Linked DNA regions of Homo sapiens. The protein of the gene in region 1 interacts with the protein of each later gene in a pairwise test. Each region holds a gene or a part of one and is shown in the gene's direction. Other genes may lie near its edges.

Region 1 (7,327 bases):
ATGTGGTGGTGCATGCCTGTGGACCTAGCTACTTGGGAGGGAGGGTGAGGCAGGAGGATCACCTGAGCCCAGGAGTTCAAGGCTGCAGTGAGCTAGGATCATGCCACTGCATGCCAGCCTGGGCAACAGAGGGAGAAAAAAAAGAAGAATGAAGAAGGAGGAGGAGGAAAGGAGAAGGAGAAGAAGGAGGAGGAGAACAGAAAGTGGAGGAGGAGAAGGAGGGGAAAGAGGGAGGAGGAGGAGGGGCAAAGAAAAAGGAAAGGAAAGAAAGAAAAGAAAGGAAGGAAGGAAGGAAGGAGAGAGGAGGGGGAGGAGGAGGGGGAGGAGAAGGAAGGCAAGGAGGAGGAGAGGGAGGAGGAGGGGGAGGGGGAGGAGGGGGAGGAGGAAGATGGGAGGGGGAGGGGGAGGAGAGGGAGGAGGAAGATGGGGAGGGGGAGGGGAGGAAGGGGGAGGAGAGGGAGGAGGAAGATGGGGAGGGGGAGAGGAGGAGGGGGGAGGAGAGGGAGGAGGAAGATGGGGAGGGGGAGGGGAGGAGGGGGAGGGGGAGGGGGAGGAGGAGGAGGAGAAGGCGAAGGCGAAGGCCTAGTGCAGTGACTCACACCTGTAATCACAACACTTTGGGAGGCTGAGGCAGGAGTTCAACACCAGCCTGGCCAGCATGGCAAAACCCTGTCTCTACTAAAAATACAAAAATTAGCCAGGCACAGTGGTGGGCGCCTGTAATCCCAGCCACTCTGGAGGCTGAGTTAGGAAAATTGCTTGAACCCAGGAGGCGAAGGTTGCAGTGAGCCCAGATCGTGCCATTGCACTGCAGCCTGGGCAAGGACTCCATCTCAAAAAAATAAAGAAAGAAAAAGAAGGCCAGGTGCGATGGCTCACGCCTGTAATCCCAGCACTTTGGGAGGCCGAGACAGGCAGATCACCTGAGGTCGGGAGTTCGAGACCAGCCTGACCAACGTGGAGAAACTCCATCTCTACCAAAAATACAAAATTAGCCGAGTGGTGGCGCATGCCTGTAATCCCAGCTACTCGGGAGGCTGAGGCTGGGAATTGCTTGAACCCCGGAGGCGGAGGTTGCGGTGAGCAGCGATCACGCCATTGCACTCCGGCCTGGGCAACAACAGCAAAACTCCATGAAACAAAGAAGGAAAGAAAGAAGAAAGGAAGGAAGGAAAGAAGGAAGGAAGGAAGGAAGGAAGACAGGAAGAGTCACTCCAAAGGAGAGACAACCTTTCTCACAGGTCCCTTCCTCAAAGCGGTCTTCAAGGAACCCCTTGTCCCTTGCTACCGCTTCACCTTGCTTTGTTATATATACAACATTTGTCACAAACTGGCATTACCTTGTTCTTCCGTTTGTCTTTTGTTTTGTTTTGTTTTTAAAAGCCAGGTTCTGAGCTGCCACCCAGGCTGGAGTGCAGTGGTGCAATCATGGCTCACTGTAGCCTCCAACTCCCAGGCTCAAGTGATCCTCCTGTCTCAGCCTCTCAAGTAGCTGGGACCACAGGTGCACACCATCACACCCAGCTCATTTTTATTTACTTATTTATTTATTTTTGAGACGGAGTCTCACTCTGTTGCCCAGGCTGGAGTGCAGTGGTGCAATCTCGGCTCACCACAACCTCCGCCTCCTGGGTTCAATCGATTCTCCTCCCTCAGCCTCCCGAGTAGCTGGGATTACAGGTGCGTGCCACTACGCCTGACTAATTCTTCTATCATTTTTATTTATTTTTTGTAGAGATGGGATCTCACTATGTTGCTCAGGCTGATCTCAGACTCCTGGGCTCAAGCGATCCACCCACCTTGGTCAGCCTCCTAAACTGCTGGGATTTAAGGCGTGAGCCACCCCACCTGGTCTCCTTTATTAGTTTACTTAGTGTATCTCTCCCACCCACTAGGACAGAAGCTCTCAGAGAGTAGAGAGCCTTGCTGGTCTTGTCCTGCAAGGAAGCTGCAGATGCCGACAGACAACAGGTGCTCTTAAAGCTCTACTAAATCCAAAAGGAAGTTTTGTCTTTGGACTCCCTGTGGCGGTGCCCAGAAGGTCCCTGACTTACAAGTTTCCAACCCTAGAGGTTTCCAGTCGCAGGCCCAGACCTGGTCAATGTCAGGGCTTTTTTTTTTTTCTTTTTTCTTTTGAGACGGAGTTTTGCTCTTGTTGCCCAGGCTGGAGGGCAGTGGCACGATCTCGGCTCACGGCAACATCCGCCTCCTGGGTTCAAGCGATTCTCCTGCCTCAGCCTCCCAAGTAGCTGGGATTACAGGCTTGTGCCACCACACCCAGCTAATGTTTTGTATTTTTAGTAGAGATGGGGTTTCACCATGTTGGCCAGGCTGGACTCGAACTCCTGACCTCAGGTGAATCACCCGAGTCGGCCTCCCAAAGTGCTGAGATTCTAGGCATGAGCCACCGCGCCCGGCCAAGTCAAGGCTTCTTTTACCCTGTCAGGGAGAACTCTCCGTCTCCCATCCTAAGTCCAGGTAGGAACATTTCCATGGATGGTTTGGTTTTGTTTTGTTTTGTTTTGAGATGGAATCCTGTTCTGTCGCCCAGGCTGGAGTGGGGTGGTGCAATCTCAGTTCACTGTAACCTCCACCTCCCAGGCTCAAGCGATTCTCTTGTCTCAGCCTCCCAAGTAGCACAAGCCACCACACCCAGCTAATTTTTGTATTTTTAGTAGAGACAGGGTTTCACCATGTTGGCCAGGCTGGTCTCAAACGCCTGACCTCAGGTGATCCACCCTCCTCAGCCTCCGAAAGTGCTAGATTACAGGTGTAAGCCACTGTGACCAGCCCAAGCCTACAGCACCCGGTATTCCTAGGTGGTCTCCCATCCAAGTACTAACCAGGTCCGACACTGCTTAGCTTGCGAGGTGAGACGAGGATCAGATGCTTTTAGGGTGGTATGGCCATAGATACATCCAAGGTTTTTCTTTTCTTTTCTTTTTTTATCTTTTTTTTTTTTTTTTTTTTTGAGATGGAGTCTCACTCTTCGCCCAGGCTGGAGTGCAGTGGCGCAATCTCGGCTCACTGCAAGCTCTGCCTCCTGGGTTCACGCCATTCTCCTGCCTCAGCCTCCTGAGTAGCTGGGACTACAGGCGCCCGCCACCACGCCCTGCTAATTTTTTTGTATTTTTGTAGAGACTGTGTTTCACTGTGTTAGCCACGATGGTCTCGATCTCCTGACCTCGTGATCCACCCGCCTCAGCCTCCCAAAGAGCTGGGATTACAGGCGTGAGCCACTGCACCCGGCCTCCAAGGTTTTTCAGACGGAGAACAGATCAAGGTCCACCTCCACAGATTTGCTCATCTAAGACCCAGCTCAGGCCTCCCAAGTGGGGCGGCCAGGGTGGGGGTGGGGAGGCAGAGAAGCTGGGCCCCCCAGGACTTCGGAGCTGCTTGTGCCCCACTCCCCACCTGGAGGGCAGACCACAGTGTTGGGCAGGGACAGACAGGAGGGCATCCCCACTCTACTCAACTTCCGTTGGTTCAGCCCAGTTCCCGCCCATGGCCAGAGCTTGAAGGGAGAAGCCGTCCCCTCCCCGTCCTCTCCTCCCGCAACTCCACTCCCAGCACCTGAAAACTGCAGTCACCTGTGCCTTGGCTGGGCTTTAAGGCCAGGTGACTGGGCCTTGCGGGGTTAGAAGGAGCCCTTCCGCACTTCCTCTTTTTCTTTTTTTTCTTTTGGAGACAGGGTCCTTCTTGGTGGCCCAGGCTGGAGTGCAGTGGCATGATCGTAGCTCGCTGCAGCCTCTCAACTTCCCAGATTCAGGTGATCCTTCCACCTCGGCCTCCAGAGTAGCTGGGACTACAGGCACACACCACCACACCTGGCTAATTTTTAAAATTTTGTTTTTGTAGGTTTTAAAATTTTTTGTAGAGATGTGGTCCCACTATATTGCTCAGGCTGGTTTCAAACTCCTAGGCCCAAGGTATCCTCCTGCCTCGGCCTCCCAAAGTGTTGGATTACAGGCGTGAGTCACAGAGCCCGGCCTCCACATTTTCTCGACAGGGTCCGTAAGACCTGGTTCCCAGAAAGGTGGCCGTAGAATGGCTTTGGGAGTTCAGCGTCCCCAGCTCCCTCAGTTTCCCCAGCTGCCAGGGTCCAGCCAGACTGCAAAGTTGCAAAGTTCTAAGACCCCTGCATCTCCCGCCAGCCCCGAGCCCACCAGGGCAAAGCAGCCTAAGACGGCTGTCTTCCCCCAACCCTGCTGATCGCGCGGCGCCTGGAGTAGGGTCGACCTGGGCGCGCCTGCGGCGAGGCGGGGCCGAGTCGTCCGGGGGCGGGGCGGGGCGGCTCCGGGTCTCCTGTCCCCGCCTGCCCTGACTCACCCTCGCGGCCCGCCCGGGAACTCTGCGGGAGTCGCGGCAGCTCCGCTCCCAGAGACCCAGGAGTTGGGCCCAGCGTCCCTCCCGGAACGGTGAGTAGGTGGCTCTTTGCCTCTGGACACCCCACGAGGTGGCAGGGTGGGGGTCGGGCTGGGAGTCCCCGGGTCTGGACAAGGGGCAGAGCCGCTCCAGGTGCGCCGGCCCTGTGGCCGGGGCAGGCCGTCCCGACACACCAGGAGCTGGGGTGGGGGTGCCGGCCGGTGCAAAGGGAAACCTGGCCCACGAGGTGCCCGTCCTGGGAGCCAGGCAGACGCGGCCAAGTCTCAGAGTGAAGATAAACAGGCTGAAGATAAACTTGACTTTGGGGGTCTCAACCACTTTCCCCTCCCCTTGGCATCTGGGAAGACATTGACAACTCATCCCCGGGAGACTCTCAGAGCTCCAGAACCTACCACTTGGGGTGGGTTCAACCAAGCCTGACCTCTGGTGCTCTTGAACTTACACATGTCCCAGATCTTCAAGTCTGCTGGCAGAGGCGGCTTGGAAAACCACTCGGCTGGGAATCCGCAGGCCTGGGGCCTGACCCAGGACGGGCTACAAAGATGCCACCCTCCCCCACCCTAGACCCTCAGTTTCTCCCTTGCATAAATGGTTGAGGCTCAGCCGGACACCGTGCCTTACGTCTATAATCCCAGCACTTTGGGAGGCCGAGGTGGGCAGGTCACCTGAGGTCAGGTGTTTGAGACCAGCCTGGCTAACACGGTGAAACCCCATCTCTACTAAAAATACAAAAATTAGTGGCGTGTCCCTGTAGTCCCAGCTACTGGGGAGGCTGAGGCTTGAGTACTGCTCGGACCCAAGAGGTGGAGGTTGCAGTGAGTTGAGATTGGGCCACTGCACTCCAGCCTGGGCAACAGAGCGACACTCCATCTCAAAAAAAAAAAAAGATTGAGGCCAGGCACAGTGGCTCACACCTGTAATCCCAGCACTTTGGGAGGCTGAGGTGGGAGGATTGCTTGGACTCAGAAGTTCAAGACCAGCCTGGGCAACATAGCGAGACTCCATCTCTACAAAAAATCTAAAAGTTGGCTGGGCATGGTAGCACGCACCTGTGGTCCCAGCTACTGGGGAGGCTGAGGCAGGAGGATCACTTGAGCCCAGGAGTTCGAGACTACTATGAGCTATGATCGTGCCACTGAACTCCAGCCTGGGTGACAGAGCAAGACTCTATCTCTCTCTCTCTCTCTTTTTTTTTTTTTCAAGATAGAGTCTTGCTCTGTTGCCAGGCCGGAGCGCAGTGGCACGATCTTGGCTCACGGCAACCTCCACCTCCCAGGTTCAAGCGATTCTCCTGCCTCAGCCTCCTGAGTAGCTGGGACTACAAGCATGTGGCACCATACCCAGCTAATCTTTGTATTTTTAGAGATGGGGTTTCATCATGTTGGCCAGGATGGTCTTGATCTCTTGACCTCGTGATCCACCTGCCTCAACCTCTCAAAGTGCTGGGATTACAGGCGTGATCCACTGTGTCCGTCAGGACTCTATGTCTAAAAAAAAAAAAAGGTTGGGCCTTGTTTTCTACAAAACCCCTCTTAGGGCTGAAAACTGCTGGATGTTTCTTGCTTCTTCCCTGCCTCTTAGCATGGGCTGTGGGTGTGGAGGGTCTCACTCTCCCACCCTTCCCCCAGCAGGAACTCATCACCACATTTTTTGGAGGCAAGTGGCTTGAGGAGGACCTGGGAGGGAGGAGGGGTGAGGCATGGGTGGATGGAGCCAGGGCTGGTGGGAGCCACATGGTCTCAGGCTGGAAAGCCTTCCAGCCTGGCCTGCCACAATGCAACACCGCTCTTAGGTGCTTTTGGCAAAGATGCTGTGGTTTTTTTGTTGTTGTTTGTTTTTTGAGATAGAGTCTTGCTCTGTTGCCCAGGCTGGATTGCAGTGGCGCAATCACGGCTCACTGCAACTTCCACCTCCTGGGTTCAAGAGATTCTCCTGCTTCAGCCGGGCACGGTGGCGCACGCCTGTAATCCCAGCTCTTTGGGAGGCCGAGGCAGGCAGATCATGAGATCAGGAGATTGAGACCATCCTGGCTAATACAGTGAAACCCCGTCTCTACTAAAATTACAAAAAATTAGCCGGGCGAGGTGGCGGGCGCCTGTAGTCCCAGCTACTCGGGAGGCTGAAGCAGGAGAATGGTGTGAACCCGGGAGGCGGAGCTTGCAGTGAGCCGAGATCACACCACTGCACTCCAGCCTGGGCGACAGAGTGAGACTCTGTCTCAAAAAAAAAAGAGATTCTCCTGCTTCAGCTTCCCCATTAGCTGGGATTATAGGTGCCCACCACCACTCCAGCTAATTTTGTATTTTTAGTAGACATGGGGTTTTACCATGTTGGGCTAGCCTGGTCTCAAACTCCTGACCTCAAATGATCTGCCTACCTTGGCCTCCCAAAGTGTTGGGATTACAGGCGTGAGCCACCGTGCCTGGCAAGATGCTGCATTTTAATTAGAGGCTGTCTCCCAAGAGGGAACAGAGCAGTTGCAATCCTACAGGCAGGACCTGGAGGTTGGATGGGTCAGGCTTCGAATGCCGCTTGGAACTGTAGAAGCTTGAGCAAGTTATTTCTCTCCCCTGAGTCTGGAAAGCAAAGTCTCCGACATCCACGCTGCCTGGGTTGGGATAAAATGAGGCATTCAGTGTCTGGTGGAGAAAGCTGAGCGTATACGTCCCATCGTTTTATTTTCCCTGGCTCTGCCCCAATTCTTCGAGCCCCTGTTCCTGGACCTTCCCACCAGCCCTGCTCAGACAAAGTGGGGGCCTATTTTATGTCTGTGGAAATTTAATGGCAGGTTTGTGAGGATCAAGTTTGAGTCATGGAGACAGATAATGATAGCCCCTGTGGCTGCCCCCCGGTCCCCTGAGTGTTGCTGCCTTCTTGTCTGCGATTGTGCACCTGGGATGGCTATTGGTGGAGCTTACACCAGGGTGGCAAGGACAGGAAG
Region 2 (7,126 bases), about 31 Mb from region 1:
ATTTCTCAAAAGAATAATCTACATTGCTGCCTCCAATTTCTCCTCCCAGTTTTCTCTTCTGCCTTCTCCAATCAGCCTTTCACCTGTATTCCTCTCAGCTGACATGCCCTTGTCAAGGTCACCCATGCACTCCACGGTGCTGGATCTAATGGTCAATTCTCACTCCTCCTCAGCCACATCTGACACAGCCCATCACTCCCTGTTCCCTGAAACATCGTCTTCATGACACCACACTTGCCTGGTTTTCTTTTTTTCTTTTCTTTTTTTTTTTTTTTGAGACAGGGGTCTCGCTCTGTCACCCAGGCTGGAGTACAGTGGCACCATCTCAGCTCACCGCAACCTCCGCCTCCTGGGTTCAAGCGATTCTCTCACTTCAGCCTCCCAAGTAGCTGGGATTACAGGCGTGAGCCACCACACCCGGCTAATTTTTTTTTTTTTTTCTTGAGATGGAGTGTCTCTCTGTCACCCAGGCTGGAGTGCAGTGGCACAATCTCGGCTCACTGCAACCTCCACCTCCCAGGTTCAAGCAGTTCTCCTGCCTCAGCCTCATGAGTAGCTGGGATTACAGGTGTGCGCCACCACAACCAGCTAATTTTTGTATTTCTAGTAGAGACGGGGTTTCACCATGTTGGTCAGGCTAGTCTCGAACTCCTGACCTCGTGATCAGCCCACCTCAGCTTCCCAAAGTGCTGGGATTACAGGTGTGAGCCACCGCGCCTAGCCATATTTTTGTATTTTTAGTAGAGACAGGGTTTTACCATGTTGGCCAGGCTGGTCTCAAACCCTCCCATGGGCCAGACACAGTGGCTCATGCCTGTAATCCCAGCACTTTGGGAGGCCAAGGCAGGAGAATTGCTTGAGACCAGGAGTTCAAGACCAGCCTGGGCAACATAGCAAGACCTTGTCTCTACAAAAAAATTTTAAAAGTAGCCGGGCATGGTGGCATGTGTCTGTAATCCCAGGTACCAGCTACTTGGGAGGCTGAGGTTGGGAGGATCACTTGAGCCCAGGAGTTTGAGGCTGCAGTGAGCTAGGATCACACCACTGCACTCCAGCCCAGGTGACAGAGTAAGATCCTATCTCTAAAAACCAAACAGCAGGCCAGGCGCAGTGGCTCACGCCTGTAATCCCAACACTTTGGGAGGCCGAGGCAGGCAGATCACTTGAGTCCAGGAGTTCAAGACCAGCCTGGGCAACATGGTGAAACCCCATCTCTACTAAAAATACAAAACTTAGCCAGGTTTGATGGCATACGGCTGTAGTTCCAGCTACTCCAGAGGCTGAGGCAGGAGAATCACTTGAACCCAGGAGGCAGGGGTTGCAGTGAGCCGAGGTTGCAGTGAGCCGCGATCGCACCACTACAATCCAGTCTGGGCAACAGAGTGAGACCCTGCCCCCCCCCCCCACACACACACACACACACACACACACACACACCAACAATGACTAAAATACTAAGTTATCTGTCACCACCCCTACCCCATTGCCTCTTGGACCTTGTCCTTCACTGCCCTCTTTTGCTCACTCCACTCCAGCAATGCTGGCCCCTTTGTGGTTCTGTGAATGATCCTACTACATGGCCTTTGCACTTGCTGTTTTCTCTTTCTGGAACCCACTTTCTCCTTCATTCCTTCAGATTTCTGTTTCAGTCTCACCTAATGAAAGAGGCCTTTCCCCATGTAAATTAATTCTGGCTGCATTACTCCATTCCCTTAGCTGCTTTCTTGTTATTTATTTGTTTATTTATTTAGAGACATAGTCTCGCTCTGTCACCTGGGCTAGAGTGCAATGGCAAATCTCGGCTTATTGCAACCTCCGACTCCTGGGTTCAAGTGATTCTCCTGCCTCACCCTCCTGAGTAGCTGGAACTACAGGCACGCATCACTATGCCCAGTTAATTTTTGGCATTTTTAGTAGAGACAGGGTTTTGCCACTTTGGCCAGGCTGGTCTCAAACTCCTGGCCTCAAGTGATCCACCAGCCTCAGCCTCCCAAAGTGCTGGGATTACAGGCATGAGTCACCATGCCCAGCCACTGCTTTCTTTTTCTCCTTGGTACTTATCACGAAGTTACACTGTATTTCCTTATTGTTTGTGTCCCCAAGAACTAGAATGTAAGTCTTTTTGTTTTTTTTTTGTTTTTTTTTTGAGACGGAGTTTCACTGTTGTTGCCCAGGCTGGAGTGCAATGGCACGATCTTGGCTCACTGCAACCTCCGCCACCCGGGTTCAAGCGATTCTCTTGCCTCAGCCTCCCAAGTAGCTGGGACTACAGGCATGTGCCACCACGCCCCGCTAATTTTGTATTTTTAGTAGAGATGGGATTTCACCATGTTGGTCAGGCTGGTCTCGAACACCTGCCTCGGCCTCCCAAAATGCTGGGATTACAGGTGTGAGCCACCGCGCTCATCCTATTGTTGTGTTTCTAGCACCTTAAGCAGAGCCTGGCACATATTAGATAGTCAAGAAATATTATTGAATGAATTAATGAACCAGCAGTTAATGAGCACAATAATTCTATGCAGTGTGAAGGCTGTTGCTTAAATGCAGGAGGTAGTGGATGGGGTTTGTGACATGGCCCCACCCTGGTGAAACAGCCTTTCCTCAAAGCGTCTATAATGCCACACTCTCCTGGTTTTCCTCTCTCTGGCTGCCTTTTGCAATATTCATCGACAGCGTCAATTCCTTTGCTCAAATCCTGCCTCTCTGTTTCAGGGTTCTGTTCAGTCCCTGTCTCCAGTGACCCTTCATACCCTCCCCGGGCTAGACCCCTAACTCCCACAGCCTCAATTACCATCTTTGACGATCCTTAAATCTTGGTCTCCAGCCTCAATTTCTCCCTTAAGCTCCAGACCCAGGGTTTGTGCACCTCCTGGACCTCGCTACTAGGCATCCACATTGGGCTTAGTATCTTCCCAACCTGCTTCTGGCGCCCAGTCTCCCGGCTAGAGGGGCCTGGTCCTAAACTTTTCTCCCCCTTCCACTCCATAGCCAGCCAGTGTCAGGGCCCGTTCGCTCTGCCTCCAGGGCGTCCCTCCCACCTGCACCTCCTTCCCTCCCCACAGTCCCTCCCTCGTGCAAACCCCCTCTTTCTTCCCCACCCCCTCCCCCAGCTGCCTCCCTGGACTCCCGATCCCGTTTCATTCCCTCCAATCCGCCCTCCATGTATAAGCCAGAGAGACATCTCTCCAAAACCCCAGACTCACCATGATCCTCCCCGGCTTGAAGCCCTTCACGGCTCCCTAGTGCCCTCGGGACAAGTCCAAACTCCCTCAAGTGGCCAAACAACTGGCCTCTGCTCGTTCCTCACCCCTCCCTGTCTTCAACTCGACCCTCCATCCCGACTGCCTCTCTAAGTGCCTGTAACAAGCCAGATCTCTGTCACCGAGAGCCTTCTGAACACAGGTCCCTCTGATTAGTTCACCCGGACCCAATACAGTTTGTGGAACGCACAGATCACAACCAAAGTCACAGCAACAACTCCCGTTTATTGACAGCCTCCTTGATCCTTAGCGCTTTCTGTGCATTCTCTTCCCACCCTAAAGGCTAGATCTCGCCTCGCCATTCCCATCGGAGAGAGCAAGCGGCAAGGCTGAGAACAGCGCGATGAGAAAGCCGAGCGCCCAGAAGCCCGAGTGCAGACGCCCACTGAGGACAGCCTTGGGTGAGGCGGGCCACCCAAGGGGCGGGGAAGAGGAGGCCTGGAACGCCTGAATCAGGAACTGTGACTTCGCTCGGGGCAGCTGGGGTGGACGCGCGCGAGCCTGCCCCCTGCGGGCCTGGAGGCCCAACCTCAGACTCCGCCGGGCCCGTTGCCCTGGGCAACGCCCCGCGCGCCCCGCCCCTTCCCCGCCCCCCAGCCCCAAACCCCAGGCCTGGCCGACTGCCCGTCACCCCCACGTCCGACCAATCCCGCCGAGGAGGGGGCGGGCCTCTTGGGCCCCGTTCCACCACCGTCGCTCCCCCCTCGCCGCGACCCCGCCTTACTCGGCTCACACCTCCCGCCCTTCGGGCTGCCCTCGCCGCCCGTTGGCTGGCGCGCCGTTCGTCACCCGGGCGTGAGCTAATGCCGGCGCGCGGCGGCCCCCGTCGGGGCGGGGCCAGGGGCGGTGACGCACGGCGCGGTGACGCAGCGCGACGGCGGCGGCGGCGGCGGCGGCGGTGGTCGGTGCGGGAGGAGGGAGGGGAGCTTGCGGGCCCGAGAGGGGGCGACGGCGGCGGCGGTGGCCTGAGGAGGCCCGAGCGGCGGCGGTGGCGGCGAAGGCCGAGGCGGTGAGTCTCGGGCCGGGCCGGCGCGGGGCGGCGGCGAGTCGGGGCGCGCGGGGCTCCCCTCAGGGCGACCCAGGCCGCGCGGGCGGCCCCGCCCCCTCAGGGACCCCGAACCGCGGGCGGCGGCGGCGGGCGGGTGCGGAACGCGGGCCTCGGGGGGCCGGGCCCCACGGGAGAAGCCCCGCGCCCGTCCCCAGTCTCCCTCCTGGGCCCTGGCCGAAGCTTCCCTCCGAAATCTTTCTCATGCCCTCGGGATTGCCGAGGGGCCGGGCCGGGGGCCTCTCCTCAGGACCCCCCGCACATCCCCCTCGGAGAGCCCCGGAAAGCCTGCCGATCCCCCGTGTGCGCCCTGAAAGGTCCCCGCAAAACCCACCCCTCCCGTGGAGTCGCCTCCTCGAGCCCTTCATGGGTCCCAGCAGCTTTCCTCGCAGACCCCCGCCCTTTGGCCCCGAAGCCCCCGTCCTCCTCCTGTCTCCAGAAATAGTCCTCGGAGGCCACTCCTCGTCCATTCCACAGCGTGGCTCTCATAGCTGCTCCAGGAGCCTCCCTCACGAGCCCTGCACACCTCCCCAAGGCTCCCTCCGGACCCCTGTCCATTCCAGAACTCTCCCCCGGAGCCCTGCCTCTCACAGCCCAACAGGCTCACCCGACTTCCCCCTCCCGGATCCTAAGAATTTTCCCTCCCACTTACCCCATTCCAGAAACCTCCTTGGAGATTTTCCGCTCATACCCCCTGCATTTCTGATTCCCCCTCCCAGAAGTCCTTCAGAATGCCCCCGACGGACCGTGATCATCTTCCCTGAAGATCTCCTTCCCATATCCCCAAAATAAATCTTCCTCACAGACTTTGTGAAATGCCCCCAGATCCCAAAAACTCACCTAGAAGACTCCATCCCCCTCCCCACCGTATTGCAACCATCTCTCATACACACTCCCCCTTCACGTATCCCTCTGGACCTTTCCACAGATCCCAAAAGTCTCCCCCAGAGGCCTCCTGTCTCCCCCTGGTCTCACCACCCTAAAATGCCCTAGAGATCACCCTCATGTAGCCCAGTGATCTTCACCGGGATCCCCTTCCCCACCCCCACTCATTCTAAAAATCTCCAGCAATTGCCTGAAATCTCCAGAGGACTCTCAGCATCATATTCCAAAAGCTTCTTCCAAAATCCCTTTTACATACTCCACATCTTTTCCAGTCCCCCACATCACACGCTCCAAAAATTGTTTAAGGATCCTGAAAACTTTCCTCATGGTTTTTCTCTCAGATCCCGTAGAACTCCCCTTCACTAACACCTCAGAATCCCCCCTTGCAGACCGGTTTTAGAGGAATTTTCTGAAGATCCTCCTCACAACCCCTGTAAGACCGTAAGATTCTCTTGGTGACCCCTCTGATATGCAGGTTTTCAGGACCCCCCCCCCCCACACACACACACAGCTTAGAGACCCCAGCGACCCCCTGGAGCCCTCCTGACGTATGTTCTTGAAATCCCTCCAAGACCTTCCTGACACCACCAGAACCCCTTGAATCAATACTTCTGCCTTACTAAGGGACTTTTCTAGAGATATCCCTCCCTGAACTTGCTCACACAGGTCCCCTAAATCCTCTAGAATCCCTTGAAGAAGACCCTCACACACACCTAATTTTCCCCCAAAATAACCCGAGCTCTTGCTCTGAGAAAGTCCTATAATTCTTTCTGAAAAACCCTCTCCTCTGACACTCTCTCAGAAGACCCCGCCTTCCCCATATACTCTTTTGGAGACTTTACTCAGCTTTCTCCTCAACTGAGATCTCTGAAGAGTTTTTCCTAAAAACATCCCTCTGTCATCCCACTCCAGGACCAGTCTCAGAAGACCACACCTTCCTCAGACACTTTTTAGAGAATTTTCTCCCAAATTGCCCTCCATCAGCCACCCACTCCCAGCGCTTCCTGAGACTTCCTCAGAACTTTCCCTCAGATTCCACTTCTGACATCCCCAAGAAACATTATTTAGGACCCTATCAGATTTACCCACTAACTTTAGAATTGCTATTTACACCCTCTCATTTCCCCATTCTCTTTCCTCTGAAGTCAACTCAGAGACCTTTCTCAGGGGGCCCCCTTTTCCCATTATCCCTTCAGAGGTCCCCAACATTCTCCAGACTCGTTGCCCAAGAGCCTCTATGTTTCCTTGTAAAGATTCTTGAGAGACACCTTTCCCCGCCCCCTTGAAATCCCAGTGCTCCGAGATCTTTCTTTCAGACCATTTTTCTTAGGTGCCATGCTCATAGACCCCTCTTCCCTTCAGAGATCAAGAGACCCTTAACACCCTCCTTAGAGACTTAGGATTCTCCCCATTTCCCTTTCAGAAGCCTTCTTCCTTCTCCCCTTTGAGGACCTCCTCACCAAATAATCCCTTCCCCTATAGCAGTGGTTCTCAGTGTGGTTCCTGGCCCAGCAGCAGCCACATTTGTTAGAAATACACATTCTTGAATCCCACTCAGATCTACTGAAACTGAAAACCTGGGAGCAGGGCCCAGCAATCAAGAGTTTTTAACAAACCCTCCTGGTCATTTTGATGCACACGCAAGTTTGAGAACCTGTGCCCTTTAGGAGGATTTCCTTTTCCTCACTAAAAGCCCCCTGAAAGATGCCTCAGGGTATGCCTCTGTGCCCTACTGCCCACTGCTGCTTTCCTGTTTCCTAGGAATCCCCTTTATGAAGTACCCATCCTCCAGAAAGATTTCTTACCTACCTTGAAAGGATCTTGGCTTCTCCACAAGGTTACTCCATCCTCTGAGCAGTTATTTCCGATTCTACTTTTGAATGGTTTCTTTTCAGATCTTCCTCAGTGCTTTCTCTTTCTGGCTACCCCTCCAGCC
Region 3 (7,105 bases), on another chromosome or scaffold:
AGCAGGCACTGCGCCTGGGCTCGGCCCCGGAGGTGTTGCTGGTGCGCAAGCACATGCGAGAGCGGCTGGCTGCATTGGCGGCACAGGCCTTCCCGGAGCGGCCACATGAGAATGCACAGCTGGAACTGGTCCTTGAGGTGGACGGTCTGCGGCGATCGGTGCTCAATCTGGGCGCACTGCTCACCACGAGCGCCACTGCACACGAAACGGTGGCCACGGGAGAGGGCCTGCGCCAGGCGCTAGTGGGCCAGCCTGCCTCGCTCACTGTCACTACCAAAGACAAGGACGGGCGGTTGGTGCGCACAGGCAGCGCTGAGCTGCGTGCAGAGATCACCGGCCCGGACGGCACGCGCCTTCCGGTGCCAGTGGTGGACCACAAGAATGGCACATATGAGCTAGTGTACACAGCGCGCACGGAAGGCGAGCTGCTCCTCTCGGTGCTGCTCTACGGACAGCCAGTGCGCGGCAGCCCCTTCCGCGTGCGTGCCCTGCGTCCGGGGGACCTGCCACCTTCCCCGGACGATGTGAAGCGCCGTGTCAAGTCCCCTGGCGGCCCCGGCAGCCATGTGCGCCAGAAGGCAGTGCGTAGGCCCAGCTCCATGTACAGCACAGGCGGCAAACGAAAGGACAACCCAATTGAGGATGAGCTCGTCTTCCGTGTTGGTACAGACAGCCGAGGGCAGAGCCAGATGGGCCAGGCTCAGGTAGTGGGTGGGGAGGGAAGGGAGGTTCAAGATGACCTCTGAATGAATTATTTTGTTTTCCCTCCTGTCCCTTCCCACAGGCAGTCGTGGAAGGGAGAAAGGTGAATTCACCAATTTACAAGGTGTGTCCGCAGCCAGCAGCGGCCGCATCGTGGTAGCAGACAGCAACAACCAGTGTATTCAGGTAAGCACCTTTACCGCTCTCCTCCACCACCAAAATAAGAGTTTTCAAGCTACAGGCTACTGAAAAGATAGAATGTACAGGTCACCTCCTGGAAGATGGAACCCTACAGATAGTACCGTTCCTTAAGAGCAGTGAATCAAAGGATCACCCCTTACGCACCCACCAGCCACCCCATTCCCATAGGCCACAACTGTAACCAGCACCTTCAGTCAGAAACCAGAGTTTACTATGCTTGTAGCCTCTACTTTGTAGGCCATGGCTTAGGGCAGGTCAGCTCCTGGACTGCAAAGATCTGGCTCATTCCTCCTTTCCTTCTGCCTCTCCTTGAGCCTCTTACTTTCTCCCTTTTTCTCCTGGTGGCCTGCCCTCCGTGTCTTCCAACATGCATGCCTGGCTCCTGAATGTATGTAGTCTGTCTGGAGTCTCTGCAGTTATCAGGTTGGCTAGACAGTTGCATAGGGGTATCTTGGCCAAAGGGGGTATCTTTCAGTGGCTAGAAGTTGTAGCAGGTGGTCCTCCCACTGCCTCTCCCATAACCTCATACACCTGATTATGGCATCAACCGCACTGAATGAACATGGTTTCTGCTGCACTGTGAGCTCCTTTTCAAAGCCAGGAAATGTGCCTTTTTTTCCCTCTGTTTCTTGTAGTAAAAGCTCAGAGCCTAGTACAGTGGGCACCAGGGTAGTTGACACAGCAGAGCAGTTAAAAGCTCAGGCTCTGAAACCAGACACCTGAGCTTGAATCCTAGCTCTGTCACATACTAACAAGTCACATGACCTCTTTGAGCTTCAGTTAACTCATGTGTAAAATTAGGAAAAGTATATCTGATAGGGTTGCGGGGAGTGTTAAATGATGTACTATACTTGACATCTAGTGAAACTTCTGATGTTAGCTATTGTTAAAAATATCATCGTCCAGGTGGAGGCTGTAAACAAAGGCAAGCAGGTGGGAAAGTGCTGGAGGAGGTGGTTCAGGGAACTGGAAGGAGCCCAGCAGGCCTGGAGGTAGATTACTATTAGAAGCCAGGGGTAGCTGAGGTCAGATTGTAATTGGTTTTGGAGATGGAGTGTGGAATTTTGATTTTATCCTATAGGGGATTGTTTCTAACTACCATGCACTTTACTTCTTCGAAACATTTTACTGGGTAGCAAAACTTTTCGCTGAAGATCCTTACTTCTAAACACCTATACGTTTAAACTTCCTGACCCTGCTTGAGTACTCATGTCATCGATCCAGCTCTGCTAAGGTCCTTTCCCTCAGTGACGGCTACTCTCTGACCCCTGCTTTTCACCTAACAGTCTAAAAGTGCAAGGGACTCTTCTGTGGCCATATTCCCAGTTCTGTCCAGTCGTCCTTTACTCCTACCCTATTTCTAAGAGCAGAGGAATGGAGAGGCCCTGTGCAGCACAGGAAGGCATTTGGGCCCAGCCTGGATAGTGAGGAGGGGATTGCGGGGGAGTAATGAGGTGGTGCTCAGTTCCCTACTCAGTTACACCTTCCAGCTCCTTTCCAACTCCCTAGGCTGGGAATGCTTCCTGGCATAAAAGTTGAGATTTGGGACCCCTTCTCTGTTGTGCACACACACAGGTGTGCTCACTGCTCACATGCACAGAAAAACAAGTGCCACTTTGTCTGTCCTGGTGAGGGGGCTGAACTTCCTCATAGTTTTTTTTTTTTTTTTTGAGACAGGGTCTCTGTTGTCCAGGCTGGAGTACAGTGCTATGATCACAGCTCACTGCAGCCTTGACCTCCTGTGCTCAAGCAATCCTCCTACTTCAGCCTCCCGAGTAGCTGGGACTACAGGCGCATGCCACTATACCTGGCTAATTTATTTTATTTTATTTTTATTTTTAGTAAAGACGGGGTTTCACTATATTGTTTGGGCTGGTCTGGAACTCCTAGGCTCAAGCTATCCTCCTGCCTTGGCCTCTGAAAGTGCTGGGATTACAGGCATGAGCCACTGCACCTGGCCTCCCCATTGTTTCAGAGTGGGGAATTGAGAGGGAACACCTGGTATAGCTCCACTCTCTTCCAAACACCTGCTACTTCTATAGCAGTCCTCCTCTTGCTTCTACTTCCACCTGCCCTCTATGTCGCCACTGCTAGGAGCCTGGCTCAGATTTCTAAGTTGAATTTCTGCTTCTCTTACTCTGGAGTCCTTAGGGCTGGCATGGGCTGGGCTCCCTGATGAGGTCTGATCCCCCTCCTCCTCTCAGTACATGGGGATTGGGGTCCTCACGACATGACCGTTTTCTCTTTTGGACACTTCTATGGTGGAGGATGAGGCAGACCTCACTGAGTGGAACCAGCATCAGTTGACAGAAGACAAAAAACATTTTGTGATTCTGAATTAATAATTTGATTTGTATATATTATGTCCTTGTGTAATTGTCTAAGCTTCCAGTTTTATCAGCTCTTCTGTGAAAACTCCCTCATTCCCTTAGGCAGAATGTTAAATCACATTCTTCTCAGTTCCCTCAGCCTTTTGCTATAGTACTTTTCATACTTTACTGGAATCACTGGTTTGTTTTTGTTTTTGTCTGGTTTTGTTTTGTTTTATTTTGGTTTAAGTCTTTCTCCCCCACTAGACTGTGAGATCCCTGAAGTCAGGGATCTACTTTCAGATACCATGGTATAGGAGAGAGATGTTAAGGACCAAACTAGGACACCAGCAGATTCTAGAGATATTAAGGAAGCAAGAATGGCAGATTTTGCTAAATCGTCAAATGTCAAGAATGGCAGGACTTTGTGGACTGGGTAGATGGTGTTGCCATTCAGGAGCAGGCCCAGGTTTAAGTTGATGAATTCACTTTTGCAGATGTTTGAGATAGCTATGCGGCATTCAAGTGGAGATGTCCAGTTCAGGTCTGAGATTGAGCTGGGGAGTTCATTCATTTGTTGAATGCCTACTATGTGCCAAATGCCATATCAGTGCTGCAAGTGCAGCAGCAAACAAAACAGATGCAGTCCTTATGCCATGCGAGGCTTACATCCTTAGAAGGGGACACCGATATTTAACAGTTATTTAGCTGCAAAGTGATAATTGTTATGAAGAGAGCTGTAAAGCATATATCCTGGTGACCTAAGTTTATATGTGCATATTGATTTGGTAGGGCGGAGGGTGGTACTTGGTCATTAGTCTTCTCTGAAAAAGTGACCTGGAAATTCTAAGAATGGAAAGATGAGTAAGAGTTGGCCAGGTGTCAGGGGTGGGATAGGCTGGGACTGGAAGAACAAGACATCCCAAAGCCTCATCAGTATTGAGCCAGAACCTGAGCTGCTCAAACTGGAGGGGCATTACCTCACCGCTAAACTGTACCTTTTAGTGCCCCCTCACTTCTACTATTTAGCTCGTGGAGCTCATGGTATCTCCCTTCTCATACTGATGAGTGCTGTCCTGCCACAGGGGACCACTGCAGAACCCAAGAGCTGTGCTGGTCAGCCAGAGAAGAGCTTAGTAGAAGGTCCACATTAGAAGAAAGTGATGCCTGTTGGTGGGACCAGTTTAAACAGCCCTGCAGGACTAAGAGATGGAGTTGGGGTGGGGCCGGGGCGGGGAGACCAGTCCATTAAGGAAGGCACAGATTTGAATCCAAGAGCAAGGCCAATGCCCAGAACTTGAGTTCTCCAAGGCTGCTCCTGGCTCTCGTTCATCTTGTGTCCCCAGAGCCTATAACAAAGCAGAGTGTATGAGACTTATGTAGTGAGTAATGTTTTGACTATGAAGGAAAAGCCAGAAAGCTTAGCTAAAGTGGGAAGGAGGATTAAAGGAGGTGCTTTTGGGATGGGGAGACCTGAGCATATTGGGCAGCTAAATTAGAGGAGGTTGGAGAAGGGAGAGGTTGAAAGGTTCACTCTGTGTAGGAGGAAGGTTTCCTTGTCAGCCCCATAGCCTGAATGGACTAATTCTTGTATACTTTCTCCTCTCTCACCTACCCCATTCCAGTCTGCTACTAAGTCTCATGAGCCTACCTCCTACATATGTCTTGAGTCCATCTGCGTCCCTCCAGCCAATTTCCTTGGTCCAAGCCATCATCATTTCTCAACTGGAATACTGCAACAGCCTCTGACTGGGCAGCTAGCTTGTAGTCTTGACTTCTCCCTACAGCCAGAATGTTCTTTCTTAAAAGCAAAATTGATCTTGTCACTGCTATGCCTAGAAATGTTAAGAAACTCCTCATTACACCCAGGATAAAACATAATTCCTTCTTTTGTTCACCTGGGTGCTCCCTGCAGTCCAGCCACACTGGACAAGTCCTCAAGTGGTGCCCATACTGGACTTTGTGCCTTTTACAATCTGTTCACTCTGCTTGAATGCCTTTCCTCTTCCTTTCCTGGCCGAATTTGGTTTATGTGGCATCCTCATTAGGCTATTTGTTCAGACATCTTCTTCTCTTGGAGCCTTTTCTCACCATTCCCCTTCATCCCTTCATGTTCTCACAATCCCATTCATATCTCTGTTGCATTGCCCCAGACCTGCTGCCATGTTTGATTTTGTCAGTAAGTGCTTGTTGAATGACTGAATAAATGGTGGTGGGGGGGTCTCCTCCCTCAGGATCCTACTCCCTTCTGTCTGTGCCCACAGTGTCTCCCCTCCTACCTGCTCCCTCCCCTTGCTCCTCTGCTCCAGGTTTTCTCCAATGAGGGCCAGTTCAAGTTCCGTTTTGGGGTCCGAGGACGCTCACCTGGGCAGCTGCAGCGCCCCACAGGTGTGGCAGTGGACACCAATGGAGACATAATTGTGGCAGACTATGACAACCGTTGGGTCAGCATCTTCTCCCCTGAGGGCAAGTTCAAGGTGAGAGGCCTGCTGTCACTTTACTTACCCTGGTGTCCAGCTGAACTGACCAGTCTAGTGCCTCTTGGTGGTCAGGGTCTGGACTGATCCAATCCTACCTCCTCCTACTCCCTGTTCTTTCCCCAGCCCAAGATTCTGCTTTGGTACTGGGTTAGGACTACTTTCCCCACTGTCAGAATAAAGCCTCTTATGGATATTCTCTTCCTCCAGACCAAGATTGGAGCTGGCCGCCTCATGGGCCCCAAGGGAGTGGCCGTAGACCGGAATGGACATATCATTGTGGTCGACAACAAGTCTTGCTGCGTCTTTACCTTCCAGCCCAATGGCAAACTGGTTGGCCGTTTTGGGGGCCGTGGGGCCACTGACCGCCACTTTGCAGGTATAGGGGGACAGCTCCAAGATCTATGCTGATACCCCTGTTCCAGAGAACTCCCCTAGATACCCCAGCTGTAAAGGCCCTCTCCTCCTATATCTTGGCTCTGGAGATCCCACTTCCCTTACGTTAGCCCTATCATCTCAGAAATAATTTGTCTCAGTCCTGGAGACCCCACCCCTCTCCTAACACCCTAGCTTTTATCTTCCCAGATACTCTTCCCCATCCCACTCAGCATCCCAGCTTACTGCCCTGAAGACCACTTTGTATTTTCAGGGCCCCATTTTGTGGCTGTGAACAACAAGAATGAAATTGTAGTAACGGACTTCCATAACCATTCAGTGAAGGTCAGTGTCTTCCCTCCCTCCGTGACCACTGTCCCAACATCCTTTCCTCTTCCACAAGACTCCTCTCTATTTTACCTCCTCCTTTTCCCCTTTGAGATCATTCACTCAAACAATACACATTTACACATTTATGCATGGCTGCTTTGTCCCAGGCAGTATGCTAGAAGCTGGAGATACAGTGATGCACAAAGCAAATGTATTCTGTGTCTTCTTGATTATAGTCTAGTAGGGAAGAGAAAAAGGTAACCAAAAAATTACAATATGATGTAATAGATTCTGTGATAGGAAGGTGCAGGGAACTGTGGGAAGGGATACAGAAGTGTATGATTCAGGAAAGACTATATGAGGAGGACCTCAAGCACAAGTGGGAATTAAATGGAAGGCAGAGGAGGACGAGAGTGTTTGAGACAAAAGACACAGGAAGAGCCAAGAATGCAAGGTGGGAACCTTAATAGTGTGTTCGAGAAATCACAAGTAGTTCAGACTCAGCTTGAGGAGGGGACCGTGAAAGCTGAGAGTGAGGCTTGTGTGCCCCCTTAAGGGGCTTGCTCTCCTCCCAAGAGCTATGGGGAGTCACAGGATTGCAGGCAGGGGAGTGATGCAGTCCTGTGTGTCTTAGATCACTCAGGCTGAGGCAAGACTGAGACAGGAAGATCAATCTTTTGCAGTGATCCAGATGAGAAATGATGTGAGCCT

Evidence for each region.
Region 2: the proteins of LRRC8E (region 1) and SAMD4B interact in binary tests that used the Homo sapiens proteins (3 or more experiments, as listed by UniProt).
Region 3: the proteins of LRRC8E (region 1) and TRIM3 interact in binary tests that used the Homo sapiens proteins (3 or more experiments, as listed by UniProt).

Annotation. Positions count from the first base shown.
Region 1 is NC_000019.10:7,884,183-7,891,509, forward strand, and holds the start of LRRC8E (volume-regulated anion channel subunit LRRC8E), read left to right. Parts: upstream 1-4,327; 5' UTR 4,328-4,418; intron 4,419-7,327. UniProt on the Homo sapiens protein: Non-essential component of the volume-regulated anion channel (VRAC, also named VSOAC channel), an anion channel required to maintain a constant cell volume in response to extracellular or intracellular osmotic changes.
Region 2 is NC_000019.10:39,338,308-39,345,433, forward strand, and holds the start of SAMD4B (protein Smaug homolog 2), read left to right. Parts: upstream 1-4,113; 5' UTR 4,114-4,269; intron 4,270-5,817; exon of another isoform or gene 5,818-7,126.
Region 3 is NC_000011.10:6,449,855-6,456,959, reverse strand, and holds part of TRIM3 (tripartite motif-containing protein 3), read left to right. Parts: coding exon 1-663; intron 664-784; coding exon 785-888; intron 889-4,837; coding exon of another isoform or gene 4,838-5,086; exon of another isoform or gene 5,087-5,521; coding exon 5,522-5,689; intron 5,690-5,899; coding exon 5,900-6,068; intron 6,069-6,338; coding exon 6,339-6,409; intron 6,410-7,105.